2 linked regions of the Homo sapiens genome follow. The protein of the gene in region 2 purifies or fractionates together with the protein of the main gene of each other region. This does not show direct contact. Each region holds a gene or a part of one and is shown on either strand. Other genes may lie near its edges.

Region 1 (6,211 bases), on a different chromosome or scaffold from region 2:
CGGAGGGGGGAAAAGGCTGAAGGGGGCAGGCGTGGTTTCTTCACGGTTCTTTTTGCTACCCCGTCTCCCCGCCGCGCCCCGCCCCGCCCCCACACCCAAGGAAAATGATCTAACAGTGGAGTCAGGAGACTGGCAAGTCCACACTTGGTGCCTAACGTGCCACCTGACGCTGGGGTCACCACAAACTCCTGTCGGTGTCTGAGTACCTGGGGTGGGCATGAGATGGGATAGGCTGATAGGGTCAGGATGCTCAGGGGAAGGAGGGGAATCTATCAAGGGGATCGGAACACAAAACCTCACTTCCAGGTGGGGAATGGACACCAGATGGCGGAAGAGGCTGCAGAGGTGCTGCCAGAGACAAGGCTAGGGTCCACCCCTCTGGCTGCTACCTTTGAAAAGGCTATGGCTTCTTCCTTAGAAAAGGGGCATCACATAGTCCTCTACCTACTCCCTCATCCTGACTGGGGAAACTGAGAAGAAACAAGCTCAACTCATCTCAGGGCGTCAAGGAGAGCAGAGTGGAGAGGTGAAGAGGCCAAAAGCTGGAAAAAGGTGAGTGGAGCTGGGGCTGGCATGCACACTTGGAACCAGGAAAAAAACAAACCACACAGAGGAACAGCTGTTTTTCTAGAGGGTTTTTCTCAGGGGCTTCTCTTAGTGCTGTAGCTGCTGCAGGCTGCGCAGGGCCTCCGCACATGCGCGGATAAGGCCACACAGCTGGATGCTAGTCTCCAGGGAGGTGCTAGAGCCCAGTTCAGCAGAGGCCCAGGTCAGCTTCTGCAAGAGGGCTGTCTGTGTGCAGGCCATGACATCTGTATTTGGAGGCACAGCAGGAGCAGGTGGCCCCTGGGCTGCCTTGAGTCCTGCTGCAGCTCCCTCACAGTGCTCCGGACGAGGTACTGGGGGCTGGGGCGCAGGTCGAGAGCCCAGGGGGAGCTCTGAGGCTGAGGCCAGCTGGTGCTCCCGAGCTTGGGAGAGGGCAGCCTGGGCATTCAGAGCTAAAAAGAGGAGAAAGTGGGTGGAATGGTCAGGATGCCTGGCCCACCTCAGCCCTGAGCCATCTCCTTTTCTGCTCTGCTCTTTCTGTGCTTGAGGTGTTTTCCCTGTCCCTCTATAAGGCAACTCATCCACTTTCTACTTTGTATCACATTTATGCCCTAGCTTCAATTCTCCATCAGTACTGGGCCTGGTTGAGCTCAGACTCTCGCGCAGTGGCTGGCACACAGGAGGTGCTTGGTGCTCTTATTGAGTTAAGGGTCCTCTTTAGAGCCTAAAGGAGAAATAATTTTACTTCTACCCCACCCAGAGACTCCACTGTCACCTCTCAGCCCTACTGTTCTCGGGCCTCTATCACCACTTAACCACGCTTCCCCCCTAAGCATATCCGGCCCCTCTCCCGGATTATTTTTTACTCTTACCGGGATTATCTTTATCCACGTCTGAGTCGAGTTCCTGACAAGCCACGCAGTAGATTTTCCGCTGTTTGTCTTGGAGGAGGATCGTCTACGGACCAAAAAGCACACGGGGCCGGAATGAGACGCCGGCAATGGGGTCCAGAGGGGAGGGCCGGGGAAGGGCTGAGTGGCCTGGCCCGCGGACCCATCCCCGGTCACTCGCCCGAGTCTCGCCTCACCCCGCAGTCCGCACACGTCTCGCCCAGCATGCGGTAACCGCGCAGCAGATAGTCGCCCATGAGCCGGGAGATGCGATCTTGCCGCTCCCGTCGCGCCTGCAGCACCTTCGTCTCCGCCTCAGTCGGGGGCTCCCAGGAGAAGTCGTCGACTTCTGGGGAAGAGAGGCATAGGGACTGGGGGTCTTGCCGGAGTGGGCTGCCTCCCGTACCTCACAGCCACAAACCCCTGCCGCCCAGGTCCTCACCAGCTCCGTTCAGGGCCATGTTGCCGTTGTCACCGCCGGGCTCACAGGAAGTGACGTCAAAGCGGAGCGCCCTCCGCTGCGGCTCCGCCCGTTCCATAGCTGCCGCGGATCAGGGCGGACGTGACGCCTTAGCGTGGTCCTCAGACCTCGCTGTGCCCGGGGTGGGGCGTGTCGGCTGCTACCGAGAACCTGCTCGGGGGACGCGTCCGTCAACCGGAATCCAGGGGACAGAAGCTTCCGACGCGCGAGGCCTCGGGAGGAGCGTCTCCTTGGTAACTCTCCTCCGGTCGCAAGACCTGGAAGTGGCCTCAGGGGGTCGCCCTTCCTGTCCGTCGTGGATGAAGGGGACCACTTGGCTTCAGAAATCCCCGCTGGCCTCCGCCTCCCCTGGGGTTTCCCTTTCGGCGCAGGCGGGGCAGCGGCGTCATCACAACCATCGCCACCCCAGTAATCACAGCGAGCGGCCCTTTGCGCACGCGTGGAGCCTTCTCAGGCCTCAGTACTTCTCACTTCGCCCGGCAAGGCTGGCCAGGAGGGGTGCATTCTCCCTTTCCGCGTATTTCAAGACCACTCCCCTTCTGCATGCTCGGTGTCCCAGTCTGTCTCCTCGCTGCCTCCCGAGGCCTGGAACTGAAGCAAAGTTCGCCCCGAAGCCGACCGTTCTTTGAAGTTGAAATCCTCAAAAAGCCTGCAGACTGAATAGCGCTGTACTGGGCACGCGCATTGCGCTTCCAGCCGCCCTTGGGTGCTGCGTGCTGGGCCGGGTCGGGTTGGGGCCTTCCTACATACTCTTGCGACCATTAGGCTCTTCTTGGGTGAGTTGCAAGTTAAAATTACCAGGGCTCTCTGAACATGGACCTTGGTGCTTTTTTTCTCTCTCCCTCTTCCGTGTTCTTTTTCAAACGCATCTTCTCCCTTATTAGATTCAGAGAAGCCAGACAGGGCAGGCAGGGGTCCTCAGATGTGCAGTCTGCAGGGCCTGAGGTTGTACACCAGGGCAGTGGAAAAGCAGCTAGGACTTGGACTTTCACAGTTACATCGACATTCTCCTCTTCCGGATGGCACATGCCCCCTCAATCTGACCTGAAGTCCCTTCCTCCTGGCCCCCTCTTCCTTCCACGTAGAACCCCTGGAACTGTCATTCTTGCTGCCTCCTGCTTACGTGGAGAGCCCTGTGTCCCTTTCACATCTCCATCTACCAGTCAGGCTCTTGGGCAGCAGCGTACCTGACTTAGGGCCTGTACCACAAGTCGTTTCTATCAGGCTGAATAGAGCCACCGTTTTTTGTGTGTTTGTTTGGTTTGGTTTGTATTTTTTGTAGAGATGGGGTTTCGTCATGTTGCCCAGGCTGGTCTCCAACTCCTGGACTCAAGTGATCCTCACACCTCAGCCTCCCAAAGTGCTGGGATTACAGCGAAGAGCCACAGCACCTAGCCTGAGGCTGACTAGAGGAACTGTCTCTGAACCATCTCTTGGACTCCAGCCTGTATGCACAGACCCCCAGGTTATTACCGTCTCCAGCTCCCAGCCCTACCCTGAATTCCTCAGTGCGCCGACTATGTCACCATCATGGCCAATATCCACTCAACTGTCTATTCTGCCTCGCACCTACAAAGAGCCTTACATGAGTCCTCTCACTTAATCTCTCCAATTTACTCCTCATGACAACCTTACATATCCCCACATAAGCAGGAAACTGAATAATTATTTTAAAATACAGTGTCGTTCTTGTACTAAAAACCATCTGGCTGCCCGATACTGTGGCTCACGCCTGTAACCCCAGCACATTGGGAGGCCGAGGCGGGCAGATGTCTTGAGATCAGGAGTTCAAGACCAGCCTGGCCAACATAGTGAAACCCCTTCTCTACTAAAAATACAAAAATTAGCCAGGTGTGGTGGCGGGCGCCCGTAATCCCAGCTACTCGGGAGGCTGAACCAGGAGAATTGCTTGAACCGGGAGGCAGAAGTTGCAGTGAGCCGAGATCACACCACTGCACTCCAGCCTGGGCAACAGAGTGAGACTCTATCTAAAAAAAAAAAAAGCCATTTGGCATCTCCCATCACACTTAGACAAAAATCCAAAGTCCTTGTTATGGTCTCCAAGGTCCTATAAATCTGGTCCTTGACCCCCCAAATCCAGACAACACATAGAGAGATGCACACACATCTCCCATCCTTCCTGCATCCCTCTTCTCCCACTGCTCAAGAGGACTCTTGTCCCTTTTCTCCTCTCAGGGCCTCTCACCATCTTAAGTTCCACTGTAGGGTGGACAAGACGCAGAACTGGAATGAGGCAGGCCTGGGTTTGATCCTGGATCTATTTACTGTATCACCTGGAGTAGTTTACTTCATCGCTGTGGACTTCAATTTCTCATCTGTAAAACAGGGCCAGTAGACCAGGTGCTGTGGCTCACACCTATAATCTCAGCACTCTGGGAGGACATGCAGGAGGATTGCTTGAGACCAGCCTGGACAGCATAGTAAGAACCCATCTCTAAGAAATATATGTATTTTTTAAATTAGCTGGTGCAGTAGCATGCACTTGTAGTCCCAGCTACTCAGGAGGCTGAGTGGGAGGATTGCTCCCAGCCCAGGAGATCCAGGCTGCAGTGGGCCATGATCAGGCTTCTGCATTGCAACCTGGGTGACAGAGCGAGACCCTGACTCAAAATAAAAATGGGGCCACTTATGCCTATTTGTTGCTTGTTTGTTTTTTGAGATGGAGTCTCTGTCACCCAACCTGGAGTGAAGTGGCGCAATTCTCGGCTCACTGCCACCTCCACCTTCCAGGTTCAAGCAATTCTTGTGCCTCACCCACTGGAGTGGGATTACAGGCATGCGCCACCACAGCTGGCTAATTTTTTTTTTTTTTTTGAGACGGCATCTTGCTCTGTTGCCCAGGCTGGAGTGCAATGGTGCGATCTCGGCTCACTGCAAGCTCTGCCTCCTGGATTCACGCCATTCTCCTGCCTCAGCCTCCCAAGTAGCTGGGACTACAGGCACCTGCCACCACGCCCGATTAATTTTTTTTGCATTTTTAGTAGAGACAGGATTTCACTGTGTTAGCCACGATGGTCTCGATCTCCTGACCTCGTGATCTGCCCGTCTCGGCCTCCCAAAGTGCTGGGATTATAGGCATGAGCCACCGCGCCCAGCCAATTTTTTAAATTTTTATTTCTAGTAGAGACGGTGTTTCACCATGTTGGCCAGACTAGTCTCAAGCTCCCGACTTCAGGTGATCTGCCCACCTCAGCCTCCCAAAGTGGTAGGATTACAGGCCTGAGCCACCGCGCCAGCTTCAAAGATGTTTATCTAGGGAACAGCTATGGAAGATGGAGATAGTGTCTCCCTCCAGAGCAAAGGACAGCCATGCTTACTGGCTTTGAGTTTCCTAAGCTTAGGGTCCTCTCCCACAATGTAATTCGCTCTGTGTGCCCACACTTGCCTGAGCCCATCAGCATCACCCCCATGGGACTTAGGGTCAAAAGGAACTAACGGAAATATGCTGGTGCTCATGCTGTTTGCTGCACAGCGATCAAGTCCTTTGTCTCTGACCCAGGACTCTCCTGTATTCTGCCAGCATTCTTGAACCTGACGGGCTACCTTGGTAGCTTGCAAGTGGGTAAGATCTCAGATGCTTCACAGTCCTTGACATAGAAGGTGCTCACAGGTGTTGGTGGTAAAACCTATTCGCAGCAGTCACAGTGGACAGGCCAGTGTCTGTGGAGCAATGGGCTTGGGCTCTTTCACACCCTTCCCTTGCCGACAATATATCACACCTTCAGCCAGGCATGGTGGCTCACAACTTTAATCCCAGCACTTTGGGAGGTCAAGACTGGCAGATCACTTGAGGTCAGGAGTTCGAGACCAGCCTGGCCAACATAGTGAAACCCCATCTCTACTAAAAATACAAAAACTAGCTGGGCATGGTGGTGCGAGCCTGTAGTTCCAGCTACTCATGAGGCTGAGACGGGAATTGCTTGAACTGGGAGGCGGAGGTTGCAGTGAGTGGAGATCCTGCCACTGCACTCCAGCCTGGGCAACAGAGCATGGAGTCAGGGAAGAGAAAGGAGGGAAAGGAGGAGGGGGAGGGGGAGGGAAGGGAATCACAGTTTCATGTGAGCCAGTCCAAATTGGTCCCTCCTTGTGGCACTGATGACATGGCTGTAGTTAGGCTCTTTTCTGGGTGATAGAGCACCCCACAGCAGCTCAGTCATGCACAGCTCAATTACAGCTCCCCCTGGGCTGGCTGATTTGGTGGGGATGGTTCACATGGCAACAAGTGGCCTATGCCATGTTGCCTGGCCTCTGAAAAACGTAACTTATCATTTGT
Region 2 (7,674 bases):
GTCAGGCAGCAGAGTCTTGGGCTGATAGCCACTGAGGAAGACAGACTGTGGTAGAGAAGTGAGGAACGGGCTCTGGAATACAACCCCCTCTAGTCCCTGGAGCCCCGCCATCGCTAACCCTCGGCTTCAAGGATGTGCCTCCAGGTGACCAGGCCTGGCTCATCTTTGGCTCCTCTGGCTAGTTCTCCTGCCAAGCCTCTCTGCACAGGCCTGGGCTCTGGGTCCAGCATCACGCCTTGACTGCCACCGCTGATACTGATAATACCACCATTGTCATCCTCATCCTCTTCATTCTCCAAGGGCTGGTTTTTCTGAGCCTTGAGAAACTTCCCTTTGTCATAGTGTGCCTTGCGGCGCTTGTCAAAGTCGGTGGAGTCTGTGACCATGGTGAGAGCTTGGCTTTCCCACCGCACTCTTGCCAAAGGCTCGCTCCACCTCCCCCTTTCCATTCAATCCACAACCCTCATCTCATGTTGTGGGCGAAAGATTACCTAGGTGCCAAGGTAAGAGACTGAAGGCACAAACTGTTTCAGTATAATAAAGAAATAGTTAGAATAAGAATAGTCATAATACAAATTAGATATAGAGATGATCATGGACAATTATCAATCATTATTATAGACATTATTAATCATTAGCTTTTAATATTACTGTTTGTTGCATTACTAATATAACCTAGGAATAACCGGCGGGTATAGGGTCAGGTGCTGAAGGGACATTGTGAGAAGTGACCTAGAAGGCAAGAGGTGAACCTTCTGTCACGCTCGCATAAGGGCCGCTTGAGGGCTCCTTGGTCAAGCGGTAACGCTAGTGCCTGGGAAGACACCCGTTACTTAGCAGATCGCGAAAGGGAGTCTCCTTTCCTTGGAGGAGTCAGGGAACACTCTGCTCCACCAGCTTCTTGTGGAAGGCTGGATATTATCCAGGCCTCCCCGCAGTCATCCGGAGGCCTAAACCCCTCCCTGTGGTGCTGTGCTTCAATGCTCACGCTCCTTGTCCACTTTCATGTTCCTCCCGTACTCCTGGTTCCTCTTTGAAATTCGTAGTAGAGAGCAGTAGAAGAAATAGTGAAAGTCTTAATGTCTTTGATCTTTCTTATCAGTGCATAGAAGAAAACGCTGACGTATGCTGCCTTCTCTCTCTACTTCGGCTACCTAAAAGGGAAGGGCCCCCTGTCCTGTGATCACGTGACTTGCTGCACCTTGTCAATCACTTAGAAGATTCACCCTCCTTACCCTGCCCCCTTGTCTTGTATGCAATAAATATCAGCGCAACCAGTGGTTCAGGGCCACTACCGGTCTCCGCGTCTTGGTAGTCATCCCCCAGGCCCAGCTGCTTTCTCTTTATCTCTTTGTCTTGTGTCTTAATTTATTACAATCTCTCGTCTCTGCACACGGTGGGGAACACCCGCTAAGCCCCATAGGGCTGGACCCTACATCATGTATCTTGGAAAAGTTGTCTGCAGGCCCTGAGCTCCTGTCAGCACAGTCCTGGCGGAACCTGGGGCAGATACTGTCCATCATGGCAATCCTGAAGGGGCAGGAGACTAGTTGGGGGCATCAAGAGAAGAAAATAGCAATGGGGACAGGTGGTAAACGAGGCCAAATTGGCGGACCCCTGCCCCCATCCAGGCCTGATGGAAATTGTAGCACCTCCCACTGCAGGTGTCAGAAAGCAGACCCGCTGCAGACCTGAATTCAGGGCTGAGGGAAGGAAGAGGCCCCATAACCCGGCTGATCTCTGGCAGGACTCTTACCTCTCTGCCAGCACTCCAGGATTCACTGAGCAGGAGGAGCCGGCAGAGAGGTCCTCAAAACTGTCCTGCAGCCTGCAGAGGAGGGGGAAGCAGTGCCGGGAGGTGGGTGTCAGGCAGTATCCAGTCCCTGAGGCGCTCTGCCTCCTCCACCTGTCCCCTCCTTTAAATAGAGAAGAATCTCTGGACTGAAGGGTTGGGGCTGAGGGCTCAGCACCTGTGGTAGGGAGTGTTGGGCTCATCCACCATCATAAATCCATAGTCCTTGTCAGCAGGGCGGTAGGTGGCCAGGATATTCATCTCGTCCCAGTGCTGAGACTTCCTTCTGGGGCTGGGGGAGGAGACCTTCTAATGACCCCCCCATAGGCCTCCCTCATTTTCCCAGTCATTCAAAACAGGTTTTTTTTGTTTTTGTTTTTGTTTTTTGCTTTTGTTTTTGTTTTGAGATGGAATCTTGGCTCTGTTGACCAAGCTGGAGTGCAGTGGCACGATCACAGCTCACGGCAACCTCTGCCTCCCGGGTTCAAGTGATTCTCCTGCCTCAGCCTCCTGAGTAGCTGGGATTACAGGCGTGCGCCACCACACCTGGCTAATTTTTGTATTTTTAGTAGAGATGGGGTTTCACCATGTTGGTCAGGCTGGTCTTGAACTCCTGACCTCGTGATCTGCCTGCCTCGCACTCCCAAAGTGCTGGGATTACAGGCATGAGCTACCCTGCGTGGCATTCAAAACAGTTTTTGTTGTTGTTTGTTTGTTTTTTGAGATGGAGTCTTGCTCTGTTTTCCAGACTGGAGTGCAATGGTGTGATCTCAGCTCATTGCAACCTCTGCCTCCCCGGTTCAAGCCATTCTCCTGCCTTAGCCTCCCAAGTAGCTGGGATTACAGGTGCCTGCCACCACACCCGGCTTATTTTTGTATTTTTAGTAGGGACAGGGTTTCACCATGTTGGCCGGGCTGGTCTCGAACTCCTGACCTCAGGTGATCTGCCCACCTCGGCCTCCCAAAGTGCTAGGATTACAGGCATGAGTCACCACTCCGACTCAAAACAGGTTTCTTATACCTTGTTGAGGCTGGGGATGGGGTCAGACTTAATGATAATCACAGTCCTGTGCAGCCACGGTTTATGGGGCACCTGCTCTTCTCCCGAAAGCCTGGAACCTCGGACTTCCCACTCAATTGCCCTCACCTACTCTAACTCTTCATTCTTAAGGCTCTGCCCCTTTCCTTCTGGCTCCCACCCTCAGGTGTCCTGAACCCTCCCGACTCTGGGCTGGCTGCCCGCAGAGCTGGGCTCCTTACTTCTCCACATTGGGGGATTTCTGCATCAAGTTGGAGCTGTTCTTTCGTAGGATGCTCCGGGGCCGGTCCTGTTGGGAGTTTTGGGGGTTCAAGCAAGTTGGCCCAGAGTGCGGACTGCACCCGGGGCTGTTTACCTCTTGCCCTGCAGGTCCCCCAGGCCCGGGGCTGGAAGCCCTGGATACACTGGTTCGAGGCCCGGGGATGTTGAATCCACCAGGGTTCCTGCCAGACCCAAGGCTGTGGTTCGCAGCCTCCCTTGGGTGCTGACTGGGCCCGGAACCAAGGACCACTATCCCCCCGGAGGGACAGCTTGAACCAGTACTATGAGTTACGGAGCCCCCTGAGTGCACGTGGGGCCCAGAACCGTGAAACAAGACTACTCTGGAGGGCTGCCCAGCGCCTGCCTCGACTCCTGTGACCGCTGCGGGCACTCCTCTGGCTGCCCCTCCAGGGGAATCCCGGTTGAGGCCGCCAGCAGCCCCTAGGGACTCCACCTTCTCCATGGCCCCACTGGGGGGCTGCTCTCAGCGATCCTGACCCGCCTCCCGGCTCCACGTAGCCCCGCCCCTGGCCCCGCCCCCACCGCTGCCGGCCGGGGATGCTCGGGCTCAGTCCCGGGTCCACTTCTCCCCTGCTCCAGAGCTGCGGCGGGCGGAATCAAGACTATATAGAGACTCGGGCTGGGGGTCCCTCCGCTCGCCCCTTTCCTTTGTGTCCCACCCAAAGATTTTCTTTGTCTGGGCAATTTGTTCCCGCCCTTCTCCATCACCACCCTCATCCAAACCAGCCAATCCCAGTCAGGGGGCCAGGCCAGGAGCTTCGACTGTGACCTCACGGTCCTCCAGCCTGAGCTTGAGCTTCGGGGAGTTGGGCAGGGGGCTTGTTAATAGCTCTAAGGGAGATCTTTTGGGGTCATCAACGCTGTCGCTTGAAACGGCCTGTCGGGACTTCTTTAGACTCTTTGTGGTCTTAACATGGAATAGTTTGGTTGAGTTGGAGTTGAAGCTGGGCTTGACTTGAACTATCAGCGAGCTTCCCCCACCCCCGCCAGTCGGCTAGCTCAGCCAATCAGAAGAGGTGTGAGGCAAAGTGGAAGGACTGCCGCACTGTTGCAAGACACTTCGTCCTCAGTCGGGTGGCGGGAAGAGACTTTCACTACCGCTTCTCTGGGTCCTCCAGACTCGGCTCACGCTGCTTTGGAGCCTGCATCCCGAGGGGAGACACCCCCTCTTGCCGTAAAGCGAGTGCTTCAAGGTGTCACCGCCCCCTAGCGAGGGCGGGGTCGTCGGTGCCGCTGTCGCAAAGCAGAAAGTGTTTGGGCTCCAGCACCCCACCGTCGTAAAGATGCCTGCGGTGGGCGTGTCTTTCTCCCACTGTCGCAAAAGCTCCCTGCCCAGGTCTTCGTCCCCCTCGGAGCCGCTCCGTCACCTCGCTATGCCGTAAAGCGAGGCTCCCGACCCCGTGTCCTTCTGTTCTCATCGTGGTCGTCCCCAGCTCCTAGCGCGGGCTGCTTCATTGCCCGGCAGTGCCGTAAAGCATACCTGGCCTCAGCCCCCCGGTCGTATCCCTCGGACTGTCTGCCCGACGCGGTTGCCACGGTGCCGCCAAGCGCGGCTGTCGCGCTGCCCCGGTGTCAGCGGAGATGGCGGCAGGGTCGGGTGGGAGTGGGGGCTCTGGGGGAGGCCCTGGACCGGGGCCGGGCGGGGGTGGGGGCCCCAGCGGGAGCGGCTCAGGACCGGGGTCCAACGGGGGTCTGGGCAGCGGCGGGGAACTGCACCCGCGCACTGGGCGCTTGGTGAGCCTGTCGGCCTGTGGGCGTACGGCGCGGCGGCAGCAGCCGGGCCAGGAGTTTAACCACGGGCTGGTGTTGAGCCGAGAACCCTTGCGCGATGGACGCGTCTTCACCGTCCGCATCGACCGCAAGGTGCAGCGCTGGTACCGCGGAACAGAGATGTGGAGGGTGGTGGGAGGCGTCTAGAGGGAGACGGGGTAGGACAGCCAGGGTAGCCCACATTGCCGGGCACCGAGAGGGAACAGAAAGACCATAGAGCACCAGGGGGCGGTCAGGAAGACAGCATGAAGCAGAAACATTGAGTTTGAAGATGACATTAAGAGCTTGAGTTTTCTCAAGATCCAGAACCAGGGAAGGGACACGAGGGCTAACCCACTAGAATGGCTGGGAACAGACCTCCTGGTACAATTTCTTGGGCATGGAGGATGGAGAGATGTCAGAGATGTGATGGCAAGTGAAGAAAGATGCCAAGGAACGAACAAACGTAATCCCAGCACTTTGGGAGTCCGAGGCGGGCGGATCACTAGAGTCAGGGGTTTGAGACCAGCCTGGTGAACGTGGTGAAACCCCGTCTTTACTAAAAATACAAAAATTGGCCAGGCATGGTGGCGTGCGCCTGTAATCCCAGCTACTCTGGAGGCTGAGGCAGGAGAATGGCTTGAACCCGGGAGGCAGAGGTTGCAGTGAGCTGAGATCATGCCATTGCACTCCAGCCTGGGCAATAGAGTGAGTGAGACTCCGTCTCAAAAAAACAGAACAAACCATTGAAGGACAGAGGCTGTGCCAGAAAGATAGGTGAGGAGAAAGATCCAGGGTGAGGGAGGTGTGTGTGATTCAGTGAAGAGGCCAGGCTCACAGAAAAAGAACTTGGAAGGAGATTGAATCTGGGTAGAGCCTGATCTTTGGAGAGAATTAGGCCAGGGGAAAGGAATGAATGATACACAAGAGCAAGAGGTGTGGGTATAGGAAGTAGGAGAATTTGGATGGTTGGAGAGCCATAGAGACAAGGAAAGTTAGAGGAGGCAGGAGGTTGGAACCAAGGAATTTGTGCTTGGCTTGGAAAGGAGTGGTTTAGTAAACACTGAGTAGAGAGCAGAGTTGCTAAAGGAAAGCCCAAATAATTACCAAGACGGAGTCCAGAAAATCACTGTCTGCATCTCTGGATTAGTGTTCCAAGAGACAGAAAGCCAGCTAGCTGTCTGAGAGGTGGGAAGATATGGTGGCCTGTGGAATGGGGGGTGGCCCATTCTAAGCCTCTGTCCAATACCCCTATCCCAGGTCAACTCCTGGAGCGGCTCCATTGAGATTGGGGTGACAGCGCTGGACCCCAGTGTGCTGGACTTTCCAAGCAGTGCCACGGGCCTGAAGGGGGGCTCGTGGGTAGTGTCGGGCTGCTCTGTGCTGAGAGATGGACGCTCTGTGTTGGAGGAGTATGGTCAGGACCTGGACCAGCTTGGTGAAGGGGACCGCGTGGGCGTGGAGCGCACAGTTGCTGGGGAGCTTCGGCTCTGGGTGAATGGGCGGGATTGCGGTGTGGCTGCCACAGGCCTGCCCCCTCGTGTCTGGGCCGTCGTGGACCTTTATGGCAAGTGCACCCAGATCACCGTGCTACCCCCTGAGCCAGGCTTCAGCCCCCCTACTCCCATCCCCACACCTCCCCTCGAGCCCTTGGCCCCCACTGAAGACTCTGCCTTGGCTGAACAGGGGACCTCTGCAGATGAAGGTGAGAACACAGCTAGGGCAGTGGTGGTGGGGTGGGGACGGAATGGGGGAAATAGAGTGACAAGACAGGCTGGGTGTGGGCAGGGCCACCCTGATCCCCAAGTCTGTTGAATGGGAGAGCAGGAGCTAGAGGATGGGGGGTTCTCCTGGCTATGGGCCGTGAAGCAGGGACTGAACCCTTATTCCCCTCCCATCCCACCTGGTCCCCAGCCTTCATGGTGTCCCCAGCGCAGGCCCGGCCGGAGACGTTTCCTAACAGCCTTGAGTCGCATAATGGTGAGGGCTTTGGGGAGGCCCTGGGAAGGGGAGTGGGAAGTGAGGTGGACAAGGGAGGGCCCTCAGGAGAAGGGGTAGGGAGAGAGGCACCAGGTCTGGGGGTGTAGAGCCTCATCCCAACTTCCGAGCTTCCTTCTTCCATCCTGCTGCTATAGACTTTGCCAACATGGAGCTGTCTGAGGTGGTGAGCAACACCATCCTGTCTGCCTACAATGGAGGGCTCCTGAATGTGAACCTGAGCTCCCCACCGGCAGGGGAAGGCCTGGGATCTAGCGGTGCTGCCACCTCGCCCATTCTCACTTCCAACGATGCCCTGCTCTTTCATGAAAAGTGCGGGACCCTCATCAAACTCAGCAACAATAATAAGACGGCTGAGCGCCGGCGGCCCCTGGATGAATTCAACAATGGGGTTGTCATGACCAATCGCCCCCTTCGGGACAATGAGATGTTTGAGGTGTGCAAAGTCCTGTGGTCTGGTTGGCGCCTTATCCCTGGGAGCTAAAGATGGGGATTGACCCTTGGTGCTAGGAGGGTGGGCCCTGGGGAAGAACCAAGGGCTGAAGGTCCCTTTCTGCATTTACATTCCCTGCTTCTCCCTTCTGTCCCTCAATGCCAGATCCGTATCGACAAGCTTGTTGATAAGTGGTCAGGCTCCATTGAGATTGGGGTCACCACCCACAACCCCAACAGTTTGGAGTACCCAGCCACCATGACCAACCTCCAGTCAGGTACCAGCCCCGGGCAGGGGCGGGGGTGCAGGCCTGGTGTTGCTGAGGGGAAGGAAGCCCCGTACCCGAACCCAAGTGTCCACTATCACCCAGGCACCATCATG

The links. Proteins that work in one complex are often made in the same cells at the same time.
Region 1: the proteins of NEURL4 (region 2) and ZNRD2 purify together in Homo sapiens (co-immunoprecipitation; 4 studies listed by BioGRID and IntAct, with this or other methods). This does not show direct contact.

The regions. Positions count from the first base shown.
Region 1 is NC_000011.10:65,566,178-65,572,388, reverse strand, and holds ZNRD2 (protein ZNRD2), read right to left. Parts: upstream 1,913-6,211; 5' UTR 1,898-1,912; coding exon 1,879-1,897; exon of another isoform or gene 1,786-1,878; coding exon 1,634-1,785; intron 1,504-1,633; coding exon 1,419-1,503; intron 999-1,418; coding exon 655-998; 3' UTR 501-654; downstream 1-500. UniProt on the Homo sapiens protein: Might play a role in mitosis. Antigenic molecule. Could be a centromere-associated protein. May induce anti-centromere antibodies.
Region 2 is NC_000017.11:7,326,333-7,334,006, reverse strand, and holds the start of NEURL4 (neuralized-like protein 4), read left to right. Parts: upstream 1-4,671; 5' UTR 4,672-4,694; coding exon 4,695-4,976; intron 4,977-6,122; coding exon 6,123-6,567; intron 6,568-6,776; coding exon 6,777-6,842; intron 6,843-6,997; coding exon 6,998-7,296; intron 7,297-7,458; coding exon 7,459-7,570; intron 7,571-7,663; coding exon 7,664-7,674. UniProt on the Homo sapiens protein: Promotes CCP110 ubiquitination and proteasome-dependent degradation. By counteracting accumulation of CP110, maintains normal centriolar homeostasis and preventing formation of ectopic microtubular organizing centers.